Linked DNA regions of Homo sapiens: all the other regions are reported to be linked to region 3. Evidence: microRNA targets listed by miRTarBase, many of them from high-throughput screens and not tested one by one. Region 3 holds a microRNA gene; each other region holds the end of a gene's coding sequence.

Region 1 (4,533 bases), not on the chromosome of region 3:
CAATGTGAAGAATGTGGCAAAGCTTTTAAATGGTTCTCAACCCTTACTAGACACAAGAGAATTCATACTGGAGAGAAACCCTTCAAATGTGAAGAATGTGGCAAAGCTTTTAAGCAGTCCTCAACCCTTACTACACATAAGATAATTCATACTGGGGAGAAACCATATAGATGTGAAGAATGTGGCAAAGCCTTCAACCGGTCCTCACACCTTACTACACATAAGATAATTCATACTGGAGAGAAGCCCTACAAATGTGAAGAATGTGGCAAAGCTTTTAACCAGTCTTCAACCCTTAGTACACATAAGTTCATTCATGCTGGAGAGAAACCCTACAAATGTGAGGAATGTGACAAAGCTTTTAATCGATTCTCATACCTTACTAAACATAAGATAATTCATACTGGAGAAAAATCTTACAAATGTGAAGAATGTGGCAAAGGCTTTAATTGGTCCTCAACCCTTACTAAACATAAAAGAATTCATACTGGAGAGAAACCCTACAAATGTGAAGTGTGTGGCAAAGCCTTTAATGAGTCCTCAAACCTTACTACACATAAGATGATTCATACTGGAGAGAAACCCTACAAATGTGAAGAATGTGGCAAAGCTTTTAACCGGTCCCCACAACTTACTGCACATAAGATAATTCATACTGGAGAGAAACCTTACAAATGTGAAGAATGTGGCAAAGCTTTTAGCCAGTCATCAATCCTTACTACACATAAGAGAATTCACACTGGAGAGAAACCCTACAAATGTGAAGAATGTGGCAAAGCTTTTAACCGATCCTCAAATCTTACTAAACATAAGATAATTCATACAGGAGAGAAATCTTACAAATGTGAAGAATGTGGTAAAGCCTTTAACCAATCCTCAACTCTTACTAAACATAGGAAAATTCATACTAGACAGAAACCCTACAACTGTGAAGAATGTGACAATACATTTAACCAGTCCTCAAACCTTATTAAACAAAATAATTCATACTGGAGAGAAACTCTACAAATGTCAAGAATGTGGGAAAGCCTTTAAGCAGTCCTCAACTCTTACTAAGCATTAAATATTGGCCGGGTGCGGTGGCTTATGCAAAATGGCTCCCAGCATTTTGGGAGGCTGAGGTGGGTGGATCACAAGGTCAAGAGATCGAGACCATCCTGGCCAACATGGTGAAACCCTGTCTCTACTAAAAATACAAAAATTATCTGGGTGTGGTGGCACGTGCCTGTATTCCCATCTACTCGGGAGGCTTAGGCAGGATAATCACTTGAACCTGGGAGGTGGAAGTTGCAGTGAGCCAAGATTGTACCACTGCACTCCAGTTTGGCAACAGAGTGAGACTCCGTCTCAAAAAAAATTTATACTGTACAAAAACCCCACAAGTGTGAAAAACATGGCAAAGCCTTTAAGAAGCCCTCAATTCTTAACAGACATAAGATAATTTATACTGGAGAGAAACTCTACAAATCAGAAAGATGTGACTACTTTTGACAACGCCTCAAACTTTTCTAACCATAAAAGTAATTATACTGGTGAGAAATCCTAGAAATCTGAAGAGTGAGATAAAGCCTTTAAATGGTTGTCACACTTCATTGTAGGTAAGATAATTCATACTGGAGAAAACGCCTACATGTGTGAACAATATGGCAAAACTTAATGCTCACACTTTATTGCTAGGAAAGCATTTATACTTGAGATAAATTATACAAATATAAAGACTGTGAAAAAGCCATCATTATCTGCTCACATTTTACTCAACACAGAGAGTTCCTGCTTAATAAAAGCATTATAAGTGCAATTACTGTCAAAAGATCTTTCAGAAAATATAAGCTTTTTTAGTGAAGAGTATTTATTTTGAAGTTGAACATCACAAATATAAAAAGGGTTGTAGTGCCTTTACTTGTATCACAGATCTTTTTGTAGACATTTTCTTCTAGAGGAAAACTCTGAAGCAGTTGATCAAACTTTGTTCAACATCAGGGAATTTATATTGAAAAATTGTGCAAATATAATAAATTTGGAAAAACAATTTTTCAAAAACTACAGCTTAGAAATCAACAGTTATACTAGAATATATTTTTTCCAGATGCAGTAAAAGTAAAATATTTAATCCATAATTAAGTCTATGCAAATATCAGAGAATTTATGGTAGAAATATATAAGGTACTGACACTTCAGATATACTAAATCAGAGTGCTAAGTATAGAAAATCTGAAACTAAAGTTGGTAGAAAAGTTATTTGTATAGAACTTTAAGAGGATCAGAAGGTTTTTTGCAGAGTTATAATTACATTCAAAGTATACTTTATTTCTTGAAAAATATTACAGATTTTTTGAAAATTGAATAATGTCATCATTCAACTCTGAAATTATTTCCTGTTGTTTCTTCATTCCTATTGGATTCACATGTGAAAGCATGGGGTTAATTGTTGCTACATCAAAGAGAGAGATTCTTTTGTTTGTTTGTTCGTTTGTTTTTTGAGACTGAGTTTCACTCTTTCGCCCAGGCTGGAGTGCATTGGCATGATCTCAGCTCACTACAACCTCTGCCTTCTGGTTTCAAGCAACTCTTCTGCCTCAGCATCCCAAGTAGCTGGGATAACAGGTGCCAGCCACCATGCCCAGCTAATTTGTGTATTTCTAGTAGAGATGGGGTTTCACCATATTGGCCAAGCTGGTCTTGAACTCCTGACCTCATGTGATCCGCCCGCCTCAGCCTCCCAAAGTGCTGGGATTACAGGCTTGAGCCACCACGCCCAGCCTGTAGCATATTTTAATAGGAGAATACAATATATAATAGTAGCAGGGTTAAGTAAGGCATCCATCATCTGTAGCATTTCTCCTTTGTTTTACAAACAATCCAATTCTACACTTTAAAAAAAAATTTTTAAATGTACAATTAAATTTTTATTTACCACAGTGTTATTTTTATCGTCATAATAAAAATTATATACGAGTATAAATGAAATTCATTTCTAAATTCTTAATAAATATTTTCTCATGCCAGGTGTGGTGGCTCACGTCTGTAATCCCAGCACTTTGACAGGCTGAGCGAGGGAGTGGATCTTGAGGTCAGCAGTTCGAGACCAGCATGGCCAATATGGAGAAATCCCGTCTCTACTAAAAATACAAAAATTAGCCAGGCGTGGTGGCATGTGCCTGTAATCCCAGCTACTCAGGAGGCTGAGGCAGGAGAATCGCTTGAACCTGGGAGGTGGAGGTTGCAATGAGCCAAGATCACCCCACTGCACTCCAGCCTGGGCAACAGAGCGAGACTCCATCTCAAAAAGTAAAATATATTTTCAAATTTTCTATATATTTTTCTTTGAACATGTGGCCTGTCTGCCTGCAAACATATACAGACTTTTAGTTTTGATTCATATAGAGTTAAATACATGTTAGTCTAAAGACAAATCTTAGGTGTAAGAAAATTATGGAGTTAAGTATGTGTGTGTGAGTATGAGTTTGTACATATTTTCAGAAGGAAAGAATGATACGGGAACAAAAATCATTTTAATATGGTGACTACTATAAAACTAAAAACCTAAAAAATGCTGAAAGCAAATGTATACTTTTTGGTTTGTATTGAATTTATTACTGTACAGTCTATGACTTAGAGTTCTGAATCTTCCCAAGCAAATTCTCTGTATATACTTGCCTGGTACTCATGCTAGACCCATACTTTTTTTGTTTCTTACATTTTTTTTGTTTTATATTTTATGAAGTATTCATTATGTGAGCTGGTCTGCGATTATAAGAATTTTTATGAAATTTAGTGCACACAAAATAATCTTTAGATGTAATTCCAAAAGTAGTGTATTAAGTTACATTTTATTTAGTTAGAGCACTCCATTTTGTTCTTTTAAGAGGAGAACAATATATAGGTTTTCTTTAGTGATTTGTTCCTTTCACTTTTTATAATTGACATAAGCATATTTATTGAGTCAATTTGTTCAGCTAAGTACTAGGGAGGCTTCATTAGTCATGAGGATGTTTTTATATATAAATGTAGCAAACATATATTACAGTTTTCACTGTGTAATAGATTATCCATAATAATTCATAAATATTCCTGCTGAAGTTAGTTTGTAACTTCAAGTCAAAGATGAAAAATATCAATGGTGAAGATTGATTGTTCATATAGAGAGGACATTTTTTTTCCAGACTGTAAAACTGAATCTTGTTGAATTTAAAGAGAAATTCTGGCAGAGGCAGATGAATCACCTGAGGTCAGGAGTTTGAGACCAGCCTGATGAATATGGTGAAACCCAGTCTCTACTAAAACTACAAAAATAGCCAGGCATGGTGGTGGGTGCCTGTAATCCCACTCGGGAGGCTGAGTCAGGAGAATTGCTTGAACCCGGAGGTGAAGATTGGAGTAAGCCAAGATTGTGCCGTTGCACTACAGCCTGGGCGACAGAGCGAGACTCCATATAAAAAAAAAAAAAAAAAAAAAAGAGCTGGGCGTGGTGGCTCACGCCTGTAATCCCAGCACTTTGGGAGGCCAAGGTGGGCGAATCACTTGAGGTCGGGA
Region 2 (4,612 bases), not on the chromosome of region 3:
AGATTTCCCATCCTATCTAAAGCAGTCTATGCCCTTCCCTATCCCTAGGTCCCGCAATCACATTACCTAGTTAGATTTCCTTCAAACCTCTTGAAATTCCCTTATTTATTCTTTTGAGTTTTTTTCCACTTCACCTTCCCCATAGAACATGAGCTCCTCAGTGTCAGGGGTCTTCTGTTTCGTTCACTGCTATATCCCCAACACCTAGAATAGAACATGACACACAGTGAGCCATGAATGAATGAGAAAGAGTACAGGACTCACAGTGGAACTGCCTATGAACAAAAGGAATACTGGACAAAAAGAAATGGACTAGGGAAGAAAATCAGGAAGAAGAGGAACAAAGAATGGGGTCTAGGGACTGAGAATTGGTTATAGTGTACAATTTTAGCCCCTATAAAAAAGTTTTTTACATGCATTCCAAGCAGAGGGAATGGCAAGTGCTAAGAGGAAGTCTTTCCATCACTACACACAGCTGTTTTTTACTTTGTTGTTGTTAGTGGTTTTGTTTTCAGTGTGTGTGTTGGGAGTGGGGGGAGGATGGGTGTGAGGGATCTCTGCGTGTTTCTCTCAGGGGAAGGCTGGGTTTTCTCTTTCAGCCTACAGGTGTTGCTGCATGTTCTTGGGGTGGCCAATGGAGCACTAGACAGGAATACCACCCATGGCAGCTCTGCAACTTATTCTAAGACTTTTAGGGCAAGAGGCAGGAAAGAGTGAAGGAATGATCACCACATTGTACCAGGGGTATACCAGTGAGAGGTAAGATGATCTGGGTGGTAGCAGTGACCCCCACTTTTTTTACCCAGAAAAAGATGGATAAATGCTCTGACATTGCTGTGACCCAGGGATCTGTGGCCATGGTTGCTTGTGCAGGCAGCAGCCAATACTTCTGAATGGCTCCCTTGGGACTACAAAACTGTGTGTGGGCGCAGGGAGCCCATACTATTTGCCACATCAGAAAAATCCATTCATGAAAAGGAAAGACAGAGAATGATAAAAGTCTTCTCAGAAAGCCTTAGCAAAATGGGTGCTTTTATTTTCACAGACATGTCTATGCAATACACTCAGTCACAAGAGAGAGCTTCTTAAGCCTGACCATAATTTAAACTCTGAAAGGTGAGTGAGCCTGTTAAGAGACCTCCACCCTTCTAGTAACCTATATCCCTTGATATGGGAAGGATATCTTAGTTCTCCCTAGCCCCTTGCTTAGGATTAAGTGAGAGACTTCAGCTTTGGTGTAAAGCTGTCAGCTGCCCTAATCAAGGACAATACACAAAAATTAGACTCCTTATAAGAATAAGGGATTAAATGGAGGAAGATCTAGAAGTGGGTGGGAACAAAAGAGCAGAACTGAGCCTGCATCTGCAGAAAATGTCCAAAGACAACTGGCAGAGTTCACTCCATGGGGAAAAGGCATGTTAGTGTGTAGGTAGAGAAACTGGACAAGGAAGGATGGCCTTAGCCTTCCATAATGGAGAAGTCGGGCAGGGGATGTCTGCATGCAATAGACAACTGAATTAGAAAGAGCAGAAATGTAAACCAGCAGTGCTTCCCTATCTTGGGCCTGGCTAGCTTAAAGGGGCTCTACTGTCATTGGTCAAAAAACTTTCATGAGGAGATCCAATCACTAATGCAACAAACTCTAATGAGTTCTAAGTTGGAGAGAGCTCAGTTCTAAAGCTTGGGGGTAGACAGGTCACTGAGAGAGGAGGAATGAAGGAGTGGGATCTGAACATTGTAATAAGTCATCTAGTAGCTCTGATCACTTTGGACATTGCTGGGGGATACATAACAGCTCACTATAACATTACAACACATACTTATATCTGTTTGCTCCTCCAAACTAACATGACAATGTGTTTCTGCCATCTTAGCTTACAGAGACATGATCTAGTTCAGCTTATACTCAGATTTTACAAAAGAGACTTTGACCACATAGATATTCATAAAATTAATGTGGTTAAGAAAAAAGTGCAGGGGCTTGAAGTCAGAAGAGCTCCGTTCCCATTTTGGCTATGCTGCTGTTCAGGTTTGTGACCTGCAGAGCAGTTTAGCATCTCTGGGTCTCAATTTGTTCATCTGTAGAGCGTGGGTGATCAACCTTTATGTAATCCTTCTGTGTTGAGTGGGTCTCAAGATGGAAGCTCACTATGGGAATTTAAAAGCAAACTGTGGCATCGAAACAAACTGGACAATTGCTTGAACTCTAATATCATCATCCATCCTCATAAAGTAACTTGTTGGTCACTAGTCTGACAGTACTGTTAAAAGACATTTATTTGTAACTTTTGAGAAAATAATTTTCAGACTCTGATCTTAGAATAAGCTCATGAGGAGTCTCATTTCCAAGCTGGAGATCATTTCCAGTTTGAATGAACAATTCTTCTTTTTGGCTTGGGTGAACGTGGGGATAGGTGAAAGCTGAGCTGCACATCCTTCAGAGGTCACAATGAAAAGTCAGTCTTTATTCTAGCAGGGCTTGGTCATCTGGAATAGCTGGTACATAGGTGGCAGCTCCATGCCCTATCTCATACTTTAAACAACATCACCAATATCTTTTTCCGAAATAAGCTTGAGTTGTATATGTTTATTATAGGAGAGAAAAGTTTGCCAAGCGTCTTCTATGGACTAAGCACTTGCTAGGTGTTTTACATATATTCTGCCATTTAATCCTCAAGGCAACTTTAACATGTAAGTATTACTGTCCTCATTTTACAGGTGAAGAAATTGAGACCCAGAGTGATTATATGACCTGCCCAAGGTGGTCACGTCGTTAGGCCATGGCAGAGATCTGAAATAAAAGGTCAGGTCTTCTGACTTCAGTCCATGATTTTTTTTTTTTTTTTTCTATAACATCATGCTACCTAGAAGAAAAAGAAATGAAGGTAAGCAGTCAGCCAGGAAAGTCAGGAAAAATGATATGCTACTTGTAAAGAGCTCCCCTATATTGTATCATTCTGAAATGTCCAATTTTCAAAGAGTCAGAGTAGTACAGAAATGTTCAATGTTAAATCACTACTCAACATAAGCAATCTGACTTTGATGGTTCACAAGCTCTTCCAGATCTTGTCGTGCCTTAAAGTTCTCACTAACAATATCAATTATCAGTGCACTACAGATATATAGGAAAAGAAAATCCCAGGTAACAGAAAAGCCAGATCACCTGCCTCCAAGATGCCGGGCACTGCACGGCTTTTATCAGTTTTTATTACATCAGGTCAAGGAAACAAATGGAATCTATCCACATGGTCCTGCCTCGTTGGGCATATATTCTAAACATACATCCATTTTCATACCCAATGAGAAAGAACTCAATTCCAAAGGATCTCACCTTTCACAAAATTCTACCCTTAAGATCCTAAAACAGTCATATCACTGTGCACAAAATTTTTGGCAGTCACAAGCTCTAACACAAAGCAGAGCTTAAAAACAAATGGAGAATATAATCAGTGTTCAAATGCACCCTCACTGGGTGGGTCAGACTGCATGAGGCAGTGTGGCTGTGTGGAGGGAGAGGTCCGGACCTGTGGCAAACTGCTGCTCCTGCCAGGAGGCTACCAAAGCCAAGGCTCTTAACATATTGAGGTTCCTCAGCTGCCCCAGTGCCTATATCTCTAACAACAGTAAACAGTGAAATACCTGCAGGCAACCATGTCTAAATAAAGAGATAAATATTTGAATCTTCAAGAAGTGGCCAACTTCAGAAAGGCATCTCTTGGCACCCTAGAGGAGACTGGGATGAAAGTTGTACCGGAGACTGGAGAAGAGCCCGATGTGTTTCACGAGGTTCGGCTCCACTACATAGGCCCTCTCTCCCTTGGCCCTCAACAGCGAGTACAGTGCCATGTCCTTGCCAAAGCCCTTGTGGCAGTACACTTGGGACAGGTAGGTGAGGGTCCGGCGGGCCGCAGGTGCCGGGAAGAGCATGGCTGGGGTGCAACACTGAGAGGCAGGAACCACACTGTACAGGGAAGGACTCAGCCGCCGCAGTTCCAGGAAATAGTGCCGACCCACCAGCTCCACCAGACCCATGCTATACAGGGAGAAGAAGAGCATTACAGGCCAGCTAAACCCTGGGCGGCTGGCAAACCTCATGTATATCCAGGTTAGTAAGGGCCCCAGCAACATGCCTACACCAACCCATTCCAGGATCCGCATGGGCTCTGGATTGATGTAGTGCTGGAGCCTCTCGGGGTGATACAGCTTGAGATAAAGGGCATCTCTGAGATGTGGCTCAGAGAAGCGAGCCCGCAGAAGGTGCTCCAAGACTGGGAAGATCTGCTCTTCTGGTACAGCATCGTCTTCTACCATCAGGACGTAGTCTGGGTTGTAGGTCTGCAGGGATGACTCCAGGCAATAGACATAGTCCTGCTTCTCTTTCTCAAACGAGTTGGTCGAAGGGTCATCACCATAATCATCCTCAGTGCCCTCATAGCGATTGGCCACAGGGACATACTTGGAGAGCAACTTGGCATCAAAATGGCTCACACTACGCTCCACGTTGCACAGGAAGAGTTGGTGCCCCTCGCACTGGGGGCCACATTGCTGAAGAAGCCGGTGGAACTGGGACACAACCTGCAGGACGTAGTGGAAGCCAGGCTGCCTGTCCACA
Region 3 (4,612 bases):
CATTCCAGCTGAGACACAAAGGACGAGTTGGTGTTGACTGGGGGGCGTGGAGAGGGGGAGTAAAGTGTTCTAGGGAGAGGAAGTGGCATAAACAGAGGCCTTTAGGTGGGGGTGCTGTTTGCATGTGGGACTCAAGGAGTGCCTGGTGGCAGCTAGGGGTGAAGGGGACATAGCCTTTGGAAGAGGCAGGGCTTGGGTCAGGGCAGGATTTTGGTCTTTGTCCTAAGAGCTATGGAGTCAGTGAAGAGTTTTAAGCAGAGTTTGACAAATCGTTTCTTTTCTTTCTTCTTCTTCTCCCAAATTGATTGCCTTTGTTTATTTGGGCTGCTGTGATAAAATACCATAGACAAGGTAGCTTATGAACAACAGAAATTTATTTCTCATAGTTCTGGAGGCTGGGAAGTCCAAGATGAAGACAGCAGCAGATTTGGTGTCTGGTGGGGGCTCACTCTCTGTTTTAGAGATGATGCCTTGTAGCGGTGTTCTCACAGCAGAAGGGACAGACAAGTTCCCTCTGGGGCCTCCATCTATGTATACATATATATGTGTGTATATATCCATGTATGTATACATATATATGTATGTATGTATCTAGCTACCTAGCTAAGTGTATTTTTCTCCTGAAATCCCTTTTACCACTCTGGCCTCTTCTATAAGGACCCTGATCTCATTCCAGAGGGGTCTGCCCTCATGACTTAATCACTTCCCACAAGGCTTCACTCTTACTACTATTATCTTGGGGACTAGGTCTCAACATAGGAATTTTGTGGGGACACAGACATTCAGACCGTGGCACTGATGATGGTTTAGTCATGCCTAGTATTTTTATTTAACTAGGTTGGAGGATTATCTTGTTTGTGTATGAAGGGTTGAAGTATTTATATGTTATGTACTGGCAAACATTTAAAAGTAGATAAATGCAAAGCTGAACCTATTTGGAGCAGTTGCTTCTTAATTGTTTCTGAGTTGGGGGTGCTGTGATGGATGAAGCTCACTTTGGCAGGTATGTGTGGCTGGGGCCAGCCCCACCCCGGTGGACTTCCTTTCCTGAAGGATTCCTAATGGCCCTTAGCATTGACTTCTCTCCTGCTGCACTTGCTTTGCTTGTATGCACATTGCCAGTTTCCTTCCACCATGGAGATAACAATTTCTTGAGAAATGAAAGGAGGGGTCAGATGCATTCGGGGTGGAGGTGTACCAGCTCCCACCTCACTGAGGCATCTGATGAGGGTAGACAGGTGTCCTTGGTCAGACGCTTTTACCTTTGAGGCACTGGGGTGCAGACTTCCCACCTCCAGTCAGAACAAAATATAGACAGTAACAACCCCTTCCTCTAAAGAAAGAAAAGGACCCTGCCATTGTATCTCAGACTGGGAGAGGGAAGGGCATTTTCATTAGCAATTTTCAGTTCTGGTATTTATGTAGTGGGGTCTTAATGATATTTGATTGGGTGTTTACCTATATCGTATCAGGCTAGCCCTCAGCTGGGTTTCGTTTACTTTCACAGAATGAATGTATTGTGGAAATGGTAAACTAGGTAGTCGTGACTAATTAGTGGCTTCTAACTAGTGTTCTGTGAAATACTCTGCCTAAAGTGCTCAGTTCAGTAAACATCCTGAGCACTCGGTTGTGTGAGACCATCTGAGGGGCAAGGAGCTGAGAGGATCCCTAGGGAGACTGTGGCTTTCATGATTGTCCAGTAGGCAGTAGCTCACCAGCCAGCACAGGGGGCCCTCAGTCGGCTAGAGATTCAGGATGGTTTTGCTCCCTGATCTAGTCTTTGAGCATCTGCTGTTGTGTCCTACTAGAGCATCACCTCCTAGGAGGAGATTTTGTCAGTATAGTTCACTACTGTGCCTTTCATGCTTAGAGGATGCCAGATGCTTATTGCCTAACCCAAGCTTTAAGCCCTCATATCCTCTTGGAGTGTGTGTGTGTGTGTGTGTGTGTGTGTGTGTGTGTGTGTGTGTAAACCTCTCCCTCTCTGGATCAGTGAGAGTGTTGTTAAGGTTACAAATAAGAAATGCCTAGCACACTGCCTGACTGATTGTAAGTGCTCTGTAAATGGTGGCTACACACCCCAGGCCTGCTGGCATTGCTGCCACTGTTGCCCCTCTGACTCTTTTGAGCCAGTAGGTGAAGTGTGTCTCCACTCCCTTGGGTGGAGTGGACAGGGTGCCTTTCTCAAGGGCAGTTGTGAGGGCTGAGCTGGCCGGGAAGGTGTGCTCTTCCTTCCAGGCCTCCCTCCCACAGGTCTTCTGCGGGCCCTGCAGTTGGCCCTGCTCTGACTCTTAGTTTTTGCTTCATTCTTGACCCACTCAGGCCTGGTAGAAAGAGTTATCTGTGAGCACGGCGGGGGTTCCCAAGAATCTATTATGGTTTTAGTGTCTAGGACTCTAAAGTCGTGACAGTGACTCGTCTCTTCAGCCCCTGTTTGCAGCAGAGGGCGCAAACCAGCTCAAAGCAGGCACACAGATGTTTGGTGAATTGGGAGAAGTTGTTCCTGTCCAGGAGCCATAACGTGGTATTTGTAATTTTCCTCGTTGGAAGGCATGGCTCTGTCTGCCAAGAAAGACAAGGCATGTAGTCACCATGCTGCTGCCTCACAGTGACATTTTTAAAGCCAGACCTTCTAGAGAAGGAAGCAGGAAGGAAGGCGACTTGCTTTTGGGCCCGTGGAGTTTCAGCAGTTGCGGGAAGTTGGCTGGGCTGTGTGTGTGTGTTGCTGCATTGGTGCCTGGTCTTCTTTGATAGCTCCCAGGAGCATGAGGTTGTGCTTAGCAGTTGTGTCCCATCAGTCCTCTTGGTCTCGATCAGTTCACACGCTCCCAGGGCCCCACGTATCAGAAGGGCCGCCGTTGCATAACACTGTCCATGGAAATCACTGCAGTCATGAGAGGAGCAGTGGCTTTGGCCTGTAGACTCAGAGACCTTTCACCATGACTCAGCATGGGAAGCGGAGGCTCAGAGAACTTCAGCCTGTCTTGTCCAGGGCCACCAAGGGAGCAACTGAGCCATGTCTTCTGTTATATTTAGAGTTGGGGGCTGAGGAGGGGCGCCTATCTGCATTCTCTGCCGGTCCTGGGTCCACCTGTTGCAGGGACCCAATTCTAAGGGACCTGAATCAATTCAATCTACTGCCTCAGCCTTTCAGAGGCTTCTCATTGCTTTAGGCTGAAGGCTGTGCTGCTGAACATGGCCTTCAGGGTCCCATGGGGTCTGACTCCTGTCATTTCCTCTGTTGCAGGCCCACTTGACTTCTTGCAGTTCTTCAGATGTATTGTCTTCCCGACAGGCCCTGCCTCAGGCTGTCCCTTTGCAGGGCGGGCTGTCTCTTCTCTGGTTACTTCTGTTCGTTCTTCAGAGAAGCCTTCCCTGTTCCTCCCATTCCTCACTGCCGTGCTTCTCCTTCACAGCCCTTACCACTGCCTGTAGTTACTGTATTTCTTTGTGTACTCATCTGTGGTCTAGCTCCCTTGCAAGGCTGGGAGCTCCATGGGGCAGGGACCCTGTCTGTCTTGTCTCTGGTTTACCCCAGTGCCTCACACGGCCTGGTACATAGTGGGTGTCCAGCATCGACTTGAGGAAGAGTGATGAGGGAAGGCTCCAGACCCTTTCAGGGGCAGAGTTGCTCTACTGCTCCTGCTCCTGCTGCTTGGGGCTCATCATCCTCTGCCCTGCACACCCGTGGCAGGGGGGGTCTGCCCACACCCACCTGCCTTTGTGCCACACTCCCTTCCCTAGCAGGACGATGGTTCCTCTCAGCACTGTCCTTTTTGTTTGGCCTCCTGGTGGGAGGTGAAGCCAGCTGGACTTCCTGGGTCGAGTGGGGACTTGGAGAACTTTTCTGTCTAGCTAGAGGATTGTAAACACACCAGTCAGCGCTGTGTCTAGCTAAAGGATTGTAAATGCACCAATCAGCACTCTGTAAAAACGCACCAATCAGTGCTCTGTGTCCAGCTAAAGGATTGTAAACACACCAATCAGTACTCTGTAAAATGGATCAATCAGCACTCTGTAAAATGGACCAATCAGCGCTCTGTAAAATGGACCAATGAGCAGGATGTGGGCAGGGACAAATGAGGGAATAAAAGCTGGCCACCCCACCCAGCAGCGGCAACCTGCTCGGGTCCCCTTCCATGCTGTGGAACCTTTGTTCTTTCGCTCTTCATCATAAATCTTACTGCTGCTCACTCTTTGGGTCCGTGCCACCTTTAAGAGCTGCAACACTCACCGCAAAGGTCTGCAGCTTCATTCTTGAAGTTGGCGAGACTAAGAACCCACCAGAAGGAACCAATTCTGGACACTGGGAAGGATGTTACCTTCGGACACAGTGTTGTTCACTTTTTTGACTGGGAACCGACAGCAGATAATACACCTTTGTATGTAAATGTATACTGTCAGTATGTACATAAAACTGAAAGAAAAATGTCACTGCTACATATAGTAAAGCTAAGTACTATTTTCTCTTTTAATACTAAAAAAAATGCTTGTCCCCTCAAAATTGACTTCTTATCTTCTTAATTTGATATCCTGGCCCACAGTGGGTCACCACTCAAGTTTAGAGAAGCCCATTCTGCAGGACTGCCTGGCTGTGCAGCTGGTGCTCCCT
Region 4 (4,126 bases), not on the chromosome of region 3:
TATTAGCCATGCTTGTCTGGTGTATCTCTGACTGGAGAATGTTGTGGACGTTTGATAACCGTTTCCTGAAAAATTTTGTCCCTGGCAAAATAGAACCCTTTAAAAGTCATTCTCTGTATCCTCCATGTTATGTGCATGATGTTAGTTTTTGGATAGATCAGAAGAAAGGATTTGATGAACTAGAGTTTCACACTGTGGCCCGAGCAGTGTCTCAGGACACTATTATATCCATACAGTTTCTTAGCCGTTTCCAGCATCCAAAGACTCAACAGGTCAGTCTCTGCTATAGATTGACCTACCAGACCTGTGACAAGGCCCTCACCCAGCAGCAAGTAGCATCAATGCAGTCCCAGTTTAGGAAGGAGATTCAACAACACCTATATGTTATACCTCGGTAGTTTGGTAAATCCTTTTCTGCAGTGTGATCCTTCATTGCGGGGGATGTGGAGGAAAATTACCAACTTGCAACCAGTAGTCCTTTCTGGATTTTTGTTTTTGTAAAATCTTTTACTTTGTGACCATAGCTACTGTTCGTTGATCTTTTTTTTTTTTTTTTTTTGAGACGGAGTCTTGCTCTGCCGCCCAGGCGGGAGTGCAGTGGCAGTGGCATGATATCAGCTCACTATAAGCTCCACCTCCCAGGTTCATGCCATTCTCCTGCCTCAGCCTCCCGAGTAGCTGGGACTACAGGCACCTGCCACCACGCCTGGCTAATTTTTTTTTTTGTATTTTTAGTAGAGACGAGGTTTCACCGTGTTAGCCAGGATGGTCTCAATCTCCCGGCCTCGTGATCTGCCTGCGTCGGCCTCCCAAAGTGCTGGGATTATAGATGTGAGCCACCGCGCCCGGCCTACTGTTAGTTGATCTTAAAGATACCTTGACTCTATTACTGAAACTTATAGATTATAATGTGATTGGTGACATTTGGAGTTGTGTAATATTTTGGTCCCGAGAAGTGACTAAAACAATAAACAAAACAGCATCTTGTACTTTAGATGCTCTATTGTTGAACAGGCAGTAGAACTTAAGTGTCTCATCAAATATAAATATGTTTTCCACACTGTCAATTACTCTTCCCTTAACTTTGTTGTATCATTTCATTAAATCACCTTATGAGAGTAGTTTTTGGCATCAGACTAACATTTATTAGCTTGGGAAATTGCAAATATTCCACATTAATTTTGGTATTATTATTATAATCATCACCATTTTAATTCTGTGGTTGAAAGTCATGGAACGAATAAAGTGTCAGATTTAGGGTTAACATTTGGGTCTGTTTGACTCTAAAGCCCATGTTCTTTCTGCTACTTTCTGTTACTTCTTCCCTAGTCTTTAACAGTAATCGTTCAACTGTGATTAAACTTTGCCTCTCTGGATTTTGGGGCCTTCTGTTGTAAGTATCTCTAAGGGACACTGGAAAATTAGCTTAGGATTCTGCAGAATGCGGTACTCTAATGTGAAGTAATGTATGCTCCTGTTAATAGTTAGGCTCCACATTTGGGATTATATTCTGTGAGAGACATGACTGTCTTATTTATTCTTAGAGAAAAGCACTTGGGAAGGCAAGAATGGAAGTACAGAGACAAATTAGGAGGTTATTGCAGTAATGCAAATGAGATAATGACCTGGACCAAGGTGGTAAAATGTTGGGTTGGATAATATTTGGAAGGACTTGCTGATGAATTAAACATTTGTGTGTGGGTGAGAGAGGTGTGGGGTTAGAGAAATAAAGGAATTAAGCAAGACTACTAGGTTTTTGACCTGAATACCTAGAAGATTGGAAGTGTCATTAACTTGGATGGAAACACTGCCATACGAGTAAGTTTGGGGAGTGGGATAAAGAATCAAGGGATCTCTTACAGACACATCTATTGCTGAGCTCTCCACATTGACTATTTTGCTAACTGATGGCAGGTAATGTGATTTATCCCTTTCTTCTATCCTCAGTAGTGCTTGGTACATGTATAAGGTAGCGTTTGAAAGCTGGATCTTAAAACAAGGGCAGGAATGTGAAGGGAGAATTGTTAGGCAAGTAGGGTGTGCATTTTGGGCAGAGGACATCCATAAACAGAGATATAGATAAGGGAGCATTTGGGGGCACTTTCTAGGCTAGTTAGCTGGGATGTAAAGTGTGCATAGGAAAGTAGTGGGAGATAAGATTGGAACGGTAAGTTGGGGCTGGAGTTCATGAATACCAAATGCTAGAATAAGGAGTTTGTACTTTATTTGGTAGGCAATAGGAAAACATCCGGTGGTTTTTTATTAAGGAAGTGCCCCAGAGTAGTGCTTTGGAAAATTAACTGGTTAATGTTGCACAGGATGAATTTGAGATGAGTGATCCCTGTGGAGATGCTATTGTGTTAGTCCTACGTAGACAGGGAGGGACCTGCATTAGACTTAAATGAAAAGGAGGAGATGGGTATATGAGATACAGTTAGGCTGGGTGTAGTGGCTCACGCCTATAATCCCAGCATTCTGGGAGGCTGAGGTAAGTGGATCACTTGAGGCCAGGAGTTCCAGACCAGCCTGGCCAACATGACGAAACCTAATCTCTACTAAAAATACAAAAATTAGCCAGTGTGGTGGCAATAGTCCCTGCTACTAGGGAGGCTGAGGCAAGACAATCTCTTGAACCTAGGGGGCAGAGGTTGCAGTAAGCTGAGATTGTGCCACTGCACTCTAGCCTGGGTGAGCAAGGAAGACTCTTGTCTCAAAAAAAAAAAAAAAAAAAGAAGAAAAAGAAAAGAAAAAAAGAGTTAAGCTGGATATTTGAACTTGGTAACTAATGACTGCATGTGAGAATTGAGCAATATGATCAATCTCCATTTTCAATACTTGGGAATTTTTAGTAGGAAATCACAACCTTCTGAGACCTTGTCAAGAGATTAGCATTCCCTCTATAAACTTGTCCCAGTTACTGGCATGGAGCTCGACAGGGTAGGATATAGCTCTGTGATTAGAGGAGTGGATAGAGTGTCAGGATTAGATGAATGACCCCCAAGATATGGGGGTCACAGGTATGATATCATCAATGTGCCAGTATAAAAATGATTGTAGGAAATGAAGACCTTTCACCAGATCTGGTGGGAAGAGAGAGCATGGGCTTTCCGGTAAGATAGTCCTGGGCTGGAACATAGCTCCACCATTTACTAGCTCCAAGTTTATTTAGTTTCCTGGTAAATAAAACAAGGTTGTTGTATTAAGTTTAAAAAGGATAAAATATGTAAAATGCCTACCACAATGCCGTAGTAGCGATGACAGTGATGGACATCTGGTTCAATTTGCCGCACAGAATTTCATCAGTCTACACTCTGCCATTACCGGTTTGTCTCTCTGAAGCAGTTTTTAGCTACAGGCTGCCTCTGTCACTCTTACCAAAATACAGAGAAGGCAAGGTGTTAAAAATGACATTTTAAGGACCTTTTAGTAGATAGCTGTGCTGTGATATTTAACTGAATACTTCACATCTCACTATGTAGATTTCTTTAATCACTTTCTATTTGTTTTTTCATTTAAATAGGGGAGCTGAGAGGTGGTTTTTTTTTTTTTTGAGAATGGAGAATGCTGAAAAGTGACGGAAAAGAGGGTTGGAGGGAGGTAGGAATGGCTAGAGTTAGAAGCAGGTGGATGGGACAGCCCTGATGAAGAAACTCCTCAGGTTCTATTTCTTCGCTACTCGGGGATCTGCCCCAATTGGCCCAGTAACGCTATAATTTAGTATTTTCTGCGCATGTCAAGGTCTTTTGTCCCTCGGCGGACACCGTTTGCCAGCCAAAGCTATGTCTGCGCGCTCACCGACTTCATAGGGTGCCGAATTCTTTTTTCCCCAGGCTTGCCATGGCTAGTCGAGGGGCTCGGCAGCGCCTGAAGGGCAGCGGGGCCAGCAGTGGGGATACGGCCCCGGCTGCGGACAAGCTGCGGGAGCTGCTGGGCAGCCGAGAGGCGGGCGGCGCGGAGCACCGGACCGAGTACGTGTGCGGCGCGGCAGGGGCGTGGCCGGCCGGCGGGGCGGTTCGGGGCTGCCCCCGGGAGGGTCTTAGCTGTGGCGCGCGGGGCTCAGTCCGGCCTGGCCTCACCGCGGGAGGCCCGAGCTCCCTCTTCAGCTAGGTCCTATTGGTCTTCCTGG
Region 5 (4,555 bases), not on the chromosome of region 3:
CAGCCAGAACCCGAACCTGAACCCGGGCTGCTTTTGGAAGTGGAGGAGCCAGGGACGGAGGAGGAGCGTGGGGCTGACACAGCTCCCACCCTGGCCCCTGAAGCGCTCCCCTCCCAGGGAGAGGTGGAGAGGGAAGGGGAAAGCCCTGCGGCAGGGCCCCCTCCCCAGGAGCTTGTTGAAGAAGAGCCCTCTGCTCCCCCAACCCTGTTGGAAGAGGAGACTGAGGATGGGAGTGACAAGGTGCAGCCCCCACCAGAGACACCTGCAGAAGAAGAGATGGAGACAGAGACAGAGGCCGAAGCTCTCCAGGAAAAGGTGAGAGGCCAGGCAGGGAAGGTTCCTTGGGCGAGAAGGTGGGGCTGGCGGGAGAAGGGGTGGCAGCTGCTTCTCTTAGGAGAGGTTTGCCCAGCCTGAACCATTCTTCTGTGTATGTGTGTGTGACTATTCTGAATCTTGTATCTTTGTGCCTAAAAGGAGCAGGATGACACAGCTGCCATGCTGGCCGACTTCATCGATTGTCCCCCTGATGATGAGAAGCCACCACCTCCCACAGAGCCTGACTCCTAGCCATCTTCTGCACCCCACTCTTTGTTTCCAATAAAGTTATGTCCTTAGATAGCGACTGCTGCTTCTGCCTTTTGCCACACCTGGGTCCCCAGCCAGAAGCTCAAGTGTCTGCTGGGCTTTTCAGGGTGTCCATAGTATTCCCCAGATGTCTCCATAGCTGTCCTCTTTTTGACGATCCAGAGAGGAACAACTGACATTGGTGTAATGGACTGTCCCATCACTCAGCACGATGGTGTCAGAATTGTAGGATTCTGGCTGGATGCTAAACGTGCAGAATTGTGTGTAGGGTTAAGAATGAGGAGTTATAGAGACACAGCCCTGCTTTCGTGTTTGTATTCGGGGTGGGAAATGTGTGGAGAATGCATCCTAGTGAGTGGACCTGTGTCAACACCCACATGCCCACACGCATGCGTGCTCAGCCCCTTGGTCTGAAAGGGCAGGCTGAGTGATTGCTCAGTCTATGGAAGTTTAGGAAATTAGGAAAAGGTGTGGAGCAGTTTAGTCATTGAATTCTGGGAAATTTGGACCTTACCCCAAGATGAAAGGGTGTCCGTAGTGGGTACGTTGGGAATGACCTCTGTTTTGGGGCTAGTCCTCCTAATGACAGTTCCCCTCACAGCTCCCTGGCAGGAGTTTGATAAGCTCACCCCAGGCCTTCCTGCTCACTCTTGAGGTGTGGATATTTCCCACCCAGTGTCTTTTCTTTTCTTTTTTTTTTTGAGATGGACTCCTGCTCTGTCGCCCAGGCTGGAGTGCAGTGGCATGGTCTCAGCTCACTGCAACCTCTGCCTCCCAGGTTCAAGCAATTCTCTGCCTCAGCCTCCTGAGTAGCTGGGATTACAGGCGCCTGCCACTGCCTGGCTAATTTTTGTATTTTTAGTAGAGGTGGGGTTTCACCATGTTGGCCAGGCTGGTCTTGAACTCCTGAGCTCATGGTCCACCTGCCTTGGACTCCCAAAGTGCTGGGATCACAAGCATGAGACACCGCACCTGACTGTCCCAGTGTCTTTTCTTTAAGCACTAATCCTATTCTAGGCCTTGCTGGGATGGACGTGTGAGGATGAACCGAGAGATGTGTCTGTGAGAGGGTACCAAGATTGGTGGGCTTGAACTAGGGGCCCCGTGGTTTTTTTTGCTCAGTCAGTTGAATCATGAACGTAAGTAAAGTGCCTTCGCAATGCAGAAGAGGGAGTCATTTCTCCCAACATGTATCCTGAAGAGCCCTTTGAGGAGGTGGCATTTGAGCTAATTTTTGGAAACTTCAGTAGGATTTTAAAAAGTTACCCCTCAACTTGTTTTCGAAATAAACAGAAAAGTGAGAACAGTATAATAGATAACCTTTGCCTAGATTTGCCAATTAACATTTAGTCATGTTAACTCTTATCCCTATAAACTGCGTATCTACATGTAGACATGTATCTATATTACACCCATATATCTGTCTAATCTATACATCTGTAGTTATACACATTTCTTTTTTCATGGGACCACGTGAAAGTAAGCTGTAGACACCGTGGCCCTTCCCATCCCAGATTCTTTAACATGAATTATCTTCTAAGATAAGAATGTTTTTCTGCACAATCCTGATACCATTATCAAACCTAAGAAAAATAACAGTAATCCAGTGATAATTGTGATATTAAAATTTTCCTATTAATTCCTAAACTGTCTTAATAGCTTTTTTTTTTTTTTTTCCTCCTCTGAGTTCAAGAGGAATTTCTTCTAGGTGGAGAAGGCCCTGGAAGGTTTAAGGATCACTGCAAGGACAAGGGTGTAGTGTGAAAAGTGCAATAGTGGTTTTTCAGAAAGGGAAAGAACCTGATTTCTGGAAACTAGATAGGTGAAGTTGACATTGATTTTGGGGAAGAGGCTAGAACAGAATTTTTTCTCATTTGAATGGTGTTCTGGATCGGGAAAACATCCACATGGTTCAAAACTCAAGAGGTACAAAAGGTTTGTTGAAAAGTCCTCTTTAGCCATGAGATTTTCTGCCAGAGCAGCCAGTATGATCAGTTTTTGCATATTCATCTGGAGATATTGTATGCACATACAAATATATATATAATTTTAAATGCAAATGGTAGTATATTATCACGTAACATAAATCAGAGGCTGTCTCTACTAAAAAATGCAAAAAATTAGCTGGGTGTGGTGGCAGGCACCTGTAGTCCCAGCTGCTCAGGAGGCTGAGGTGAGAGAATGGCGTGAACCCGGGAGGCGGAGCTTGCAGTGAGCCATCGCGCCACTGCACTCCAGCCTGGGCGACAGTGAGACTCCATCTCAAAAAAAAAATTAGCTGGATGTGGTGGAGTGCACCTGTAATCTCAGCTACTCGGGAGGCTGAGACAGGAGAATTGCTTGAACCCAGGAGGCGGAAATTGCAGTGAGCCGAGATCGCGCCACTGCACTCCAGCCTGGGCAACAGAGTGAGATTTCGTCTAAAAAAAAAAAATATATATATATATATATATATATATATATATATGTGTGATATATATATATATGTGTGTGTGTGTATATATATATGTGTGTGTATATATATATGTGTGTATATATATGTGTATATATATATGTGTGTATATATGTGTGTGTGTATATATATGTATGTGTGTATATGCATGTATGTATCTATATGTATGTGTGTATATATATGTATGTATGTGTATATATATAATGTATGTAACTATAGGTCCACAGGAGGTTGCAGAGATGCTAATGAGAGGGTAGGGATGACAAGCTGTCCTTCAGCCAGTTTCCTCCAGTGGTTACATCTTACATTATTACAGTAAAACCATAAATTTGATGTTGGTAGTCATTGATAGGCACTGTTTTACAAAGCTGGAGATACAGCAGTGAACAAAATGCAGAAATCTCTGCCCTGCCCTTGTGGGATCTATATTCTAGATATTTTGGGGGTGGGGGGTAGACAAATAAGTAAGATGTATATTTGATGGTGAGCACAGTGGGAAAATAAAGCAAGGAAAGGGATAGATTCGTGTGGGTGTATTGTTTTCAGTATTTTGAATTTTTAAATTTTAACTTATTTAGTTTTCAAGATGGAGTCTTGCCCCAGGCTGGAGTGCAGCGTTATAATCTCGGCTCACTGCACCTCTGCCTCCTGGGTTCAAGCACTTCTCCTGCCTCAGCCTCCTGAGTAGCTGAGTAGCCGGGCATGCACCACCACGCCCGGCTACTTTTTGTATTTTTAGTAGAAATGAGGTTTCATCATGTTGGCCAGGCTGGTCTTGAACTCCTGACCTCGTGATCCGCCTGCCTCAGCCTCCCAAAGTGCTGGGATTATAGGTGTGAGCCACCGCGCCCAGCCTGTTTTCAATATTTTATAATGAAAATTTTTGAACATTCGGAGAAGTTGAAAGAATTACACCCAGAACACCCATGTCTACCATGTTACTACATGTGTGTGTGTGTGTGTGTGTGTGTGTGTGTGCAATTTTAATTACAATGGTCGAGGAAGCTCTTGCTGAGAAGGTGATGTTGAATAAAGACTCTAAAGACCCTAAAGAGTTGAGAGAGAGCTGTGTGGAGTTCTGGGGCCCAGGCACAGCAAGTACAAGGATCCTGAAGCAGGAGCATTCTTGGTGTGTTCAAGGAAAGCAAGGAGGCCAGTGAGGTTGGAAAAGGGAATGAGGTCAGAGTAATAATAGGGTGAAAGAGGATGGCTGGGGGATGGGGGGGCAGTGAGGCAGGGCCTATGGTTTCTACTTGGTGAGGTGGGAAGCCACTGGAGGGGTTTAAGCCGATAATTGATGTCACATAATTTATGTTGTAATGGAACCCGTGTGACTGCTCCTGGGGAACAGACAAAAGAAAGGGTAGTAGAGACACCAGCTAGGAAGCAGATTCAGCTAGAAGAGATGATACCTTCCACTAAGGTGTTGGAGAAGTGGTTGGATTCTAGATAATTTTTGAAGGTGGAGTTGGCAGAATTTGAAGATCATTCCATTTCTGTTCATACAGAGCTTCCTCA
Region 6 (4,493 bases), not on the chromosome of region 3:
GATGTGTCACTTATTAAATACTTTTGTACCATGAGTAAAACTTCAGGTGTTTCGCAAGAACCACCATTCTCAATGAGTTGTATTCTTTCTTTAATGTAGCCACTGCCATAAGGTTATTAATTATTGCTTTGGTCTTTTTTTTTTTTTTTTAAATGCCACCTCTCCTGGGCTTGCTTTCCCTTGCTTTGTCTATAAATGGGAGGTCCACCACAGCCCAGGCATGCTGGGAGCACTTGCTAAGACCTGTGGACCAGCCTGCCTACTTGAGAAAAGGCCAGTGGACAAGTCCAGAGATTAAATGATGAAAAAACGATGATAAAGGCAAATTGGTTTTTCACCCTTTTTTTTTTCTTTTTTTTTTGGGAATGGAGTTTTGCTTTTGTTGCCCAGGCTGGAGTGCAATGGCACGATCTCGGCACACTGCAACCTCCACCTCCCGAGTTCCAGTGATTCTGCTGCCTCAGCCTCCCAAGCAGCCGGGATTATAGGTGTCCACAAACACGCCCAGCTAATTTTTGTATTTTTAGTAGAGACAGGGTTTCACCATGTTGGTCAGGCTGGTCTTGAACTCCTGACTTCAGGTGATCACCCACCTCCCAAAGTGCTGGGATCACAGGTGTGAGCCACCATGCCTGGCTGGTTTTTTCACCCTTTCTGCTCAGCAAAAAGGAGGCAAGTCTGTTGTCACTTAATATTATAAGTAGACATTCTGATTTCTTTTAAAATAAACTAGCAGCCTGTCTCTCCATCCTCAGACACTTAGACTGTGATGTCAGGTGCCACCTTTGATGGGGCTCCCACCTGCCCTGGGGTGAGGAAGCCCCAGTCCTCTTGCTTAGGACTCCTCCCCAGTGGGAAGCAGTAGTCACACAAACTGCTGAGCCTTAGCATTGACTGAATGCCTTTAATGTCCCCCCTGAAACAGGCTTTTGATTCATGTTGGAAACATAAGAGGGGTGAGCTCTCTAACTTGCCTGGGATTTTGTTTTACATTTAAGTGTATTGCCCTTCCTTAAAACCAAACTCTTATAACTTACTCCTGGAAGGACTAATTTATTATTCAAACTCCGAGACTTTAGAGTAAAAAGTGATGCTATTAATATTTATACCAGGGCCAAGTGTGGTGGTTCATGCCGATAATCTCAGCGCTTTGGGAGGCTGAGATGGGAGGATCACTTGAAGCTGGGAGTTTAAGACCAGCCTAAGCAATATAGCGAGACCCAATGTCTACAAAAAATTTAAAAATCAGCCGGGCACAGTGGCTCACGCTGGTAATCCCAGCACTTTGGGAGGCCGAGACGGGCGGATCACGAGGTCAGGAGATCGAGACCATCCTGGCTAACACGGTGAAACCCCGTCTCTACTAAAAATACAAAACATTAGCCAGGCATGGTGGCACGCACCTGTAGTCCGTTACTCGGGAGGCTGAGGCAGGAGAATCGCTTGAATCTGGGAGGCAGAGGTTGCAGTGAGCCGAGATCACGCCACTGCAGTCCAGCCTGGGTGACAAAGTGAGACTCCATCTCAAAAAAAAAAAAAAACAAAAATTAGCTGGGCATGGTGGCCTGCACTTGTAGTCCAAGCTACTGAGGAAGCTGAGGTGGGAGGATTGCTTGAGCCTGGGCAGTCAAGGCTGCAGTGAGCTGTAGTTGTGGCACTGTACTCCAACCTGGGCAAGAGAGCAAGACCCTGTCTCTTAAAAAAAAAAAAAATCGGCCAGGTGTGGTGGCTCACACCTGTAATCCCAGCACTTTGGGAGGCTAAGGCAGGCGGATCATGAAGTCAGGAGATCAAGACCATCCTGGCTAACATGGTGAAACCCCATCTCTACTAAAAATACAAAAAATCAGCTGGGCGTGGTGGCGCTCACCTGTAGTCTCAGCTACTCAGGAGGCTGAGGCAGGAGAATTGCTTGAACCCAGAAGGCGGAGATTGCAGTGAGCCAAGATTGCGCCATTGCACTCCAGCCTGGGCACTAGAGCAAGACTCGGTCTCCAAAAAATAAAAATAAAAAATAACAAAAGGGTACAGAGGGTACCTAGAAATGCTTTTACCTTATTGTTCAGAGAACGTTGTTCTGTGGTGTTGGAAAAATAAGCTCAGGAGTACTCAGCTGCTTTCCTCTGCTGTCTCTACCAGCTCTGAGCAGGCAGCATGGCCAGCCACCTTGATTATATGACCTCCAAGCTTCACAGACTTTCAAGGTAGATGATATTGTTGAAATCTTTGATTCAGTAAGCTCACCTAACCTGCCCAAAGCAAGGGTGACTAAGTTATTGTCAAACTGAGTCACTTGTGAGAATAAAAGGCCGTGCTATTCTATTTATGCCAGCACAAACAGCATAAACCAGGACTGTTCCAGACCCAGCAAGCAGGAAGTATAGGCAGCCTTCCTCCGGTCAAAGAGTTCGCAGGTGGTGCTGAACGACTCCAGAACGTGAACTGCCCTACAGCAGGCATCTTCTACAGTCAAGCTGAGGTCTCCTGGAGGTTACAAGCACCTGTAAAAGTGATTTGCCAACATCTTGTCCAAATAATTTCTCTCATCTTTATTTTTATTAAAAAAAATAAAACAGTCACCACCAACCACATGACAACTCGCCAGGCAAGGCCTTGCTTCCCTCCCTCCTTTGCGTCCCATGTGCCTAGTCAGCAAGGTCGGGGAGGCACCGATGTTAGCTTCGCCCAAAGGGAGTATTACAGAGAGAGGCTTGGGAAAGGGAAGGAAACCTGGACAGGCTTTTCAGCACTGAGAAATCACTTAAAACTGATTTGCTTTCAGTAACTGGTATGTCTGAAATGCAGGGAGGGAAGACCATGCTGTCAGCAATCAACCCACTTTTTACAGGTTGGCTCCAGGGAGAGGTTGGTTGAAACGGTGTTTAAAGGAAGGAGAGTGGTTTCACCAGCTTGCTCAGCTCTCCTGGAACAAAGACTAAGGTGCTACGTGTTGCTTGTTAGGCTTATACTACGGCGGGTCTGGGGCTGCAGGTCTGGAGTCCTTGTTAGTGCATTTAGTGCTGGTGAGAAGGGTGGGCCCCAGTCTTGGACGCTGAAGTCCTCTAAAGACAAGGCAGAGACACAGCCTCAGATCCCCCGTCATCTTCCACTGAATAAGGGGGATGGAGAAGAGGTCTCAGCAGTTGGCCTCCTGCAAGCCGAGATGCCTGCCAGCCTGGGCCTGCTTCCTTAGCGCTGTGAGAGCTTATGTCTGACGGGCAGAGAGGAGCAAATGCAGTCCCTGTTGGGCTGACTCCACGCAGGGCTCCCCAGCTTCAGGCTTGCAGGGTGACCCTGCTCTGTGACCCAGCGGCGGCTTCAGCCCCAGAGGGGGCCGTGGCACAGGTGGTTTAGGCATAGCCGCCAGCCATCTGACTGGTGGCCGCATTGCTGCCTACTCCTCGCCAGGCCTGGTAGCTGAAGAAGGCACTCACTCCATAGGCGATCATCACCAAACACGCAAAGAACTGAAAGAGAGGTGAGAAGGGCTTAAGGACCGAGAGGGTGACAGTGACACAAGCTCCAACCAGATCTCAGGCCAGGCAGGAGGGGTTGTGGCAGCCGCACCATCTCACACTTAGCCAGATGCATTTCACAGCTGTTTATCATGGGGCTGATGAGCACCAGGGTCCTGGGATACCAACATTACCTTCTAACCATGGGAAACAGCTAAGAACCACAGGCAGGGCCTGTCAGATTGTGATAAGGGCAATGAAGGAGAAGATAAGAGTGACAGAGGGGACACCTAGCAAGGATTTAGTTCTAAAAAGACAACATTCAAAGGACACCCTAGGAATCTCCTAGAACCAGTTCAAGCCTCTATACTAACACCTGCAGCCACATTCAGAAGCTCCCCGTCTCTGTCCCCATCACTGAATTTGCTGATTTCAAAACTGCCCTCATCAGGAAGAGTAAGGAACCAAATGCGTGCCCATTGAGGCCCTGCCCTCCCCTGGGCTTGGCCGTGGCTCCAGGCCTGGCGTCCAACTTCTCTGAGCAGGAGCCTCCTGTCTGTCAAAAGGAACTGGTAGTCCCTTCCTCTCCCTCACTGTGGGTGTCGCAGGATCCTGGGAGGAGATGGTGTGCAGGGCCTGGTGGTGTGAAGGGTGACAGGCGTGGAGGGGACTACTGCCACTTCACTGGCCACCTGACGTGGGCCCAGAGTTTGGGTTTCATGGGAGAGCCTATGAATCTCCCAGAATGGTTTAAACCAAAAGGTTTTTGCACGTGCACTTGTCAGTGGGAGAGCATGTTTTTCACATTCTCCAAGGGGGCACGTGACCCTAAGGCAGTGTGGCACAGCTGATTTACAACAAGGTTCAATAGTCAGCCCAGGCCGCGTGTGGCAGCTCACACCTGTAATCTCAGCACTTTAACAGGCCAAGGCGAGTGGATCACCTGAGGTCAGGAGTTCAAAAGACCAGCCTGGCCAACATGGTGAAACTCCGTCTCTACTAAAAATACAAAAATTAGCCAGGCGTGAGACTCCATCT
Region 7 (4,562 bases), not on the chromosome of region 3:
TTTTTTTTTGAGACAGAGTCTCACTCTATCGCCCAGGCTGGAGTGCAGTGGCATGATCTTGGCTCACTGCAACCTCTGCCACATGGTTCAAGTGATTCTCCTGCCTCAGCCTCTCAAGTAGCTGGGATCACAGATGCCTGCCACCACACCCAGCTAATTTTTTGTATTTTTAGTAGAGATGGGGTTTCACCATCTTGGCCAGGCTGGTTTTGAACTCATGACCTCATGATCCACCTGCCTCAGTCTCCCGAAGTGCTGGGATTACAGGTGTGAACCACCGCACCCAGCCAAAGCACACTATTTTTTGACACAGTCAATTTTATCAATCTTTTCCTTTATGGTATTTGAATATTTTAGAAACACGTGTCTGACACCAAAGTCGTTAACATATCCCACTATATTTTTTCTAATACTTTTGCTTTAGTAATTTACATTTAGATTTTTATTCAGTTAGAACTTATACTTGTTAATGGTGTGAAATAAGGATCCCATTCAATTTACTTATACAAGAGAGGGGAGAGTGAGGAGGCTTTTGGCAAGGGCTACTGACATAACTTTCACATACAAAGGCTTCAAGAGGCTTTTCATCATGTCTTCTTAGAAGCCACAGCCTGTACATAAGCCAACTCCAAGCCTGAACTTCTCTAGGGATCCTTTGGGCAGACTAGATTCCATTTTTAAAACCCTTCGGTCATTCGCATATAACATGCAGCATCTTCTGCTACAATTCATGAACACTCTTCCCTGTTTTGCCTTTTACAAAATTATTTCATCCACTCAAAAGCCTCACCTTTTTTTTTTTTTTAAGAATCATTTACATTGTTCTATGTGTATAATAGAATCTGGAGGGAAAGACATTGTGTGCCGAGTTTTTGAACTTCAAAATAAAATTCTACTTTTCCCAATTAAAATTCTGAAGTTGACAAATTGCCTACCAGAGTTTGTACAAACTCATGCTCTTTTAAATTAGTGCATAGTATCTCTTTTTGTATGCTTTCAATGCAGTTTTATTAATCTGATATTGAAAAAAATAGTATTTCATTGGCCTAAACTGTATTTCTTCTGATCCTAGGGAGATTTAGTACTTACCACATATTTATTGGTCACCTGTTGCCTCTTCATATCCTTTGACTATGAGCTGGAGAAAAGCGTCATTTCCTAAGGGATTTTTATGAGCAATTTTATGTTAAGGATATGAATTCCATAGTTTATATGTGCTGCAATAATTTTCTCCCATTCTTAGGTTTAAAAAATATTGTATCTTTTACTATCTTTGATCATATAAAAGCTTTATAAAGTTCTTATACAGTCAAATCTATGACTTGTTGACAGGAGGTGGGGAGGCTTCTGAATCTCATGTTTAGGAAGGCCAGTCTCATTCCATGATTAGAGTGTGTCACAGACTCCTCTAATCACTGTTTGTTCCACATTTAGATAAAGCACTTGAAAGTAACTTTCACATATGGAATGAATTGTTGTATAGAGCACGATAAATTTTTCCAAAACTGTTAAACCACTGATGGTATAGGTCACTTTTGTTATAATTTTCTTTATATGTGTAACAGCATGAATATGTATGTTCACACATACATGTTAAAACCTTACAAAATTTATTAGAATTTTGTTAGGTAGAATCTGTAAATTAATTCATGGGCTACTGACATCAGTATGATAGTGAATCTGTCTTACCATATAAAGGATAAAATATTTATTTGTCTTCTTTTTCATCCTCCATTAAACTTTCGTCATTCTGTTTGTATCTATAGTCACATGTGAATTGATCACTGCATTGATTATATGCCAAAAGAATTCTGGGGTCAGGAAGTAATATTAAAAGAGGTCAGATGTAAAGAATCAGGGAGTGGTTTGAATGTTGGAGAAAGGGAAAACACATGGTCTGCTGAAGGTATTCATATGTATTTTAAACTTAATGCATACAGAATCAAACATGTTTGTGGGCCAGTTTATGAGAACTGACCTACAGTTTTGGTTTCTTTTCTTCACTAGTTTTGAAATTTTAGTAATTTAACAACCTTTATTATTTTAAATGACATAGATTTGATATAATTCATTCACCCAGATTTAGAACAGGGGTTCAAACTTATACTTTATTTTCTACTCATCATTGGTTACTGACTTGTTTCAAGATTTCTTTTTAATTTCGATTTTGCCTTTGTTTACATGTAAATGATGAATACATCTCAGTAAACTGTCTTATTAAAAATGACTTTTTAGGCCAGGCACGGTAGCTCACGCATGTAATCCCAGCACTTTGGGAGGCCAAGGCAGGCGGATCACCGGACGTCAGGAGTTAGAGAAAAGCCTGGCCGACATGTCAAAACCCTCTCTCTACTAAAAATACAAAAATTAGCTGGGCGTGGTGGTGCAGGCCTGTAATCCCAGCTACTCAGGAGGCTGAGGCAGGAGAATCACTTGAACACAGGAGGCGGAGGTTGCAGTGAGCCAAGATTGCACTACTGCACTCAAGCCTGAGCAACAGAGCAAGACTCCATCTCAAAAAAAAAGACTTTTAAAATAAGACATTAGCATCTTAGAACTGTTAAATATCCAGTGAATGCTGATACAAGCCACCATCTTACCCTATATCATGGACTCTAATGTAAATCCTACTGTTAGATACCCTCCTCACCTACTTTTAGAAAAATGCCTACCATTCCTAAAAAAAAAAAAACTTCACAATCTCTCAGTCCTGAGCTGCTGCATCTCTTTTTATTTCTGAGATAATCATGGCTGAGATGATTGGCTTTCTATGTATAGTATGGTTATCTTTTTACTTTACATTATGGTTTGAGTAATTACTTTATGCTAGGCACGCTGCTGAGCAATTTACATGCATTATTTCATTCTTCTATTAACTTCTGAGGTAGAACCATTATTATTCCCACACTATAAATAAGACTGAAGCTTACAAAGCACAAACTGCTGCCCCCAAATTAGAGGGCAGGAAATGGAAGTGCAAAGATTGGAACCCAGGTCTTTTTGATCCTGGAATATGTATCTTAATCCTGGATAAGTATTCAGAGAATGAGATGGATAGTGACACAAGATAGAAACTTTGGAAGGTAACCTGGAACAAGGTGTTAGAGGCTAGGTTTTTAGGCTATTTTGAAGAATGTGTGCTTTAACTTAAAAACCATGGGATGCCACTGAGGGATTTTAATGAGGGAGAAATGAGATTAAACATATTTTTAAAAATACAAATTTGGTTGCAATGTGGACATCTGACAGAGACAATGGTGAGTACAAGGAGACCAATTAGAAAGCTACTCGAGTATCCCATGTCAAATATATTAATGTGCATTGGACAAGGATGATGGGATGGAAATGGATTCAAGAGGTGGATTCCAGAAATATTCAGGAGATGAAACCTACAGGTCTTGGCAACTGATTTGATGTGGAGGGTGAGGGAGAGGAAAGAGTCAAGAATGACTCCATAGTATGAATTCTCTCATGATGAGCAAGATGTGCACGCTGCCTGAAAGATTTCCTGCAATCTTTACATTCATAGGGTCTTTCTCCAGTATGAATTCTCTGATGTAGAGTAAGAGATCCACTATAGCTAAATGCTTTCCCACAAACATTACATTCATAAGGTTTCTCTCCAGTATGAATTCTCTGATGTTGAGCAAGGCCTGCATTCTGGCTAAATGTTTTCCTACATTCCTTACACATATAGGGTTTTTCTCCAGTATGACTTCTCTGATGTTGTGCAAGTGATGAACTATTGCTAAAGGCCTTCCCACATTCAATACATTCATAGGGTTTCTCTCCAGTATGAACCCTCTGATGTTGATCAAGGTATGCAATTTGGCTGAAGGCTTTCCTACATACTTTACATTCATAAGGTTTTTCTCCAGTATGAACTCTCTGATGTTGAGCAAGGTGTGCATACTGGCTGAAGGCTTTCCTACATTCCTTACATTCGTAGGGTCTCTCTCCAGTATGAATTCTCTGATGTACAATTAGGTATCCACGATGGCTAAAGGCTTTCCCACACACATTACACACATAAGGTTTCTCTCCTGTATGAATTCTCTGATGCTGAGCAAGAAATGAACCATTACTAAAGGCCTTTCCACATTCAATACATTCGAAAGGTCTCTCTCCAGTATGAACTCTCTGATGCTGAGTCAGGTGTGCAATCTGGCTGAAGGCTTTTTTACATTCTTTACACTGATAAGGTTTCTCTCCAGTATGAACTCTCTGATGTTGGGCCAGGTGTGCATTCTGGCTGAAGGCTTTCCTACATTCTTTACATTCATAGGGTTTCTCTCCAGTATGTATTCTCTTATGTTGCGCCAAGTTTGCACTCTGGCTGAACGTTTTCCCACATTCAACACATGCATAGGGTTTCTCTCCAGTATGAATTCTCTGATGAAGAGTAAGGGATGAGCTCTGGTTGAAGACTTTCTCACAATCATTACATTTCAAAAGTTTCTTTTCTACATAGACTTTCCTATGTTTCATTTCAACAGATTTTTTTCGGTAACTTTTCTTTTGTGGTTCATGCTTATGTGCTTTTTCTTTGGTGGGAAAACTCT

Evidence for each region. The annotated mature microRNA hsa-miR-1827 reads UGAGGCAGUAGAUUGAAU and lies in region 3 at 3,128-3,145, opposite strand. An mRNA with a match to its seed (bases 2 to 7 or 8) in the 3' UTR can be bound and repressed. Matches are read on the target gene's strand: a 7mer-m8 pairs with bases 2 to 8, a 7mer-A1 pairs with bases 2 to 7 and ends in A, and an 8mer does both.
Region 1: the mRNA of ZNF431 is a reported target of hsa-miR-1827. Seed matches in the 3' UTR shown: 8mer at 2,572-2,579.
Region 2: the mRNA of PGAP4 is a reported target of hsa-miR-1827. Seed matches in the 3' UTR shown: 8mer at 3,488-3,495.
Region 4: miRTarBase lists FDXACB1 as a target of hsa-miR-1827. Seed matches in the 3' UTR shown: 8mer at 658-665.
Region 5: miRTarBase lists PELP1 as a target of hsa-miR-1827. Seed matches in the 3' UTR shown: 7mer-m8 at 1,353-1,359 and 8mer at 1,378-1,385.
Region 6: miRTarBase lists PLLP as a target of hsa-miR-1827. The part of its 3' UTR that is shown has no 7-base or 8-base seed match.
Region 7: the mRNA of ZNF583 is a reported target of hsa-miR-1827. Seed matches in the 3' UTR shown: 8mer at 2,417-2,424.

What each region holds. Positions count from the first base shown.
Region 1 is chr19:21,183,000-21,187,532 of GRCh38, forward strand. It overlaps ZNF431 (zinc finger protein 431), which reads left to right. Exons shown (of 5, transcript NM_133473.4): 5 at 1-4,533. The coding sequence ends at 1,035. Among named protein-coding and RNA genes, the nearest start is that of ZNF431, 43 kb to the left of the region's middle.
Region 2 is chr9:101,472,158-101,476,769 of GRCh38, forward strand. It overlaps PGAP4 (post-GPI attachment to proteins GalNAc transferase 4), which reads right to left. Exons shown (of 2, transcript NM_032342.3): 2 at 1,013-4,612. The coding sequence ends at 3,724. All of the region lies in intron 1 of TMEM246-AS1 (TMEM246 antisense RNA 1), which reads left to right. Among named protein-coding and RNA genes, the nearest start is that of TMEM246-AS1, 6.0 kb to the left of the region's middle.
Region 3 is chr12:100,188,465-100,193,076 of GRCh38, reverse strand. It overlaps MIR1827 (microRNA 1827), which reads right to left and starts at 3,193; the gene lies at 3,128-3,193.
Region 4 is chr11:111,871,194-111,875,319 of GRCh38, reverse strand. It overlaps FDXACB1 (ferredoxin-fold anticodon binding domain containing 1), which reads left to right. Exons shown (of 5, transcript NM_138378.3): 5 at 1-1,264. The coding sequence ends at 398. It overlaps ALG9 (ALG9 alpha-1,2-mannosyltransferase), which reads left to right and starts at 3,739. Exons shown (of 15, transcript NM_024740.2): 1 at 3,739-3,968. The coding sequence starts at 3,838. RefSeq lists a silencer at 3,794-4,103.
Region 5 is chr17:4,667,451-4,672,005 of GRCh38, reverse strand. PELP1 (proline, glutamate and leucine rich protein 1) reads left to right here. Exons shown (of 17, transcript NM_014389.3): 16 at 1-315; 17 at 475-2,232. The coding sequence ends at 567. Among named protein-coding and RNA genes, the nearest start is that of ALOX15, 28 kb to the right of the region's middle. RefSeq lists an enhancer at 1,810-1,979.
Region 6 is chr16:57,253,563-57,258,055 of GRCh38, forward strand. It overlaps PLLP (plasmolipin), which reads right to left. Exons shown (of 4, transcript NM_015993.3): 4 at 2,535-3,467. The coding sequence ends at 3,351. ARL2BP (ARF like GTPase 2 binding protein) reads left to right here. Exons shown (of 6, transcript NM_012106.4): 6 at 1-73. Among named protein-coding and RNA genes, the nearest start is that of ARL2BP, 11 kb to the left of the region's middle.
Region 7 is chr19:56,423,182-56,427,743 of GRCh38, reverse strand. ZNF583 (zinc finger protein 583) reads right to left here. Exons shown (of 5, transcript NM_152478.3): 5 at 380-4,562. The coding sequence ends at 3,376. Among named protein-coding and RNA genes, the nearest start is that of ZNF583, 21 kb to the right of the region's middle.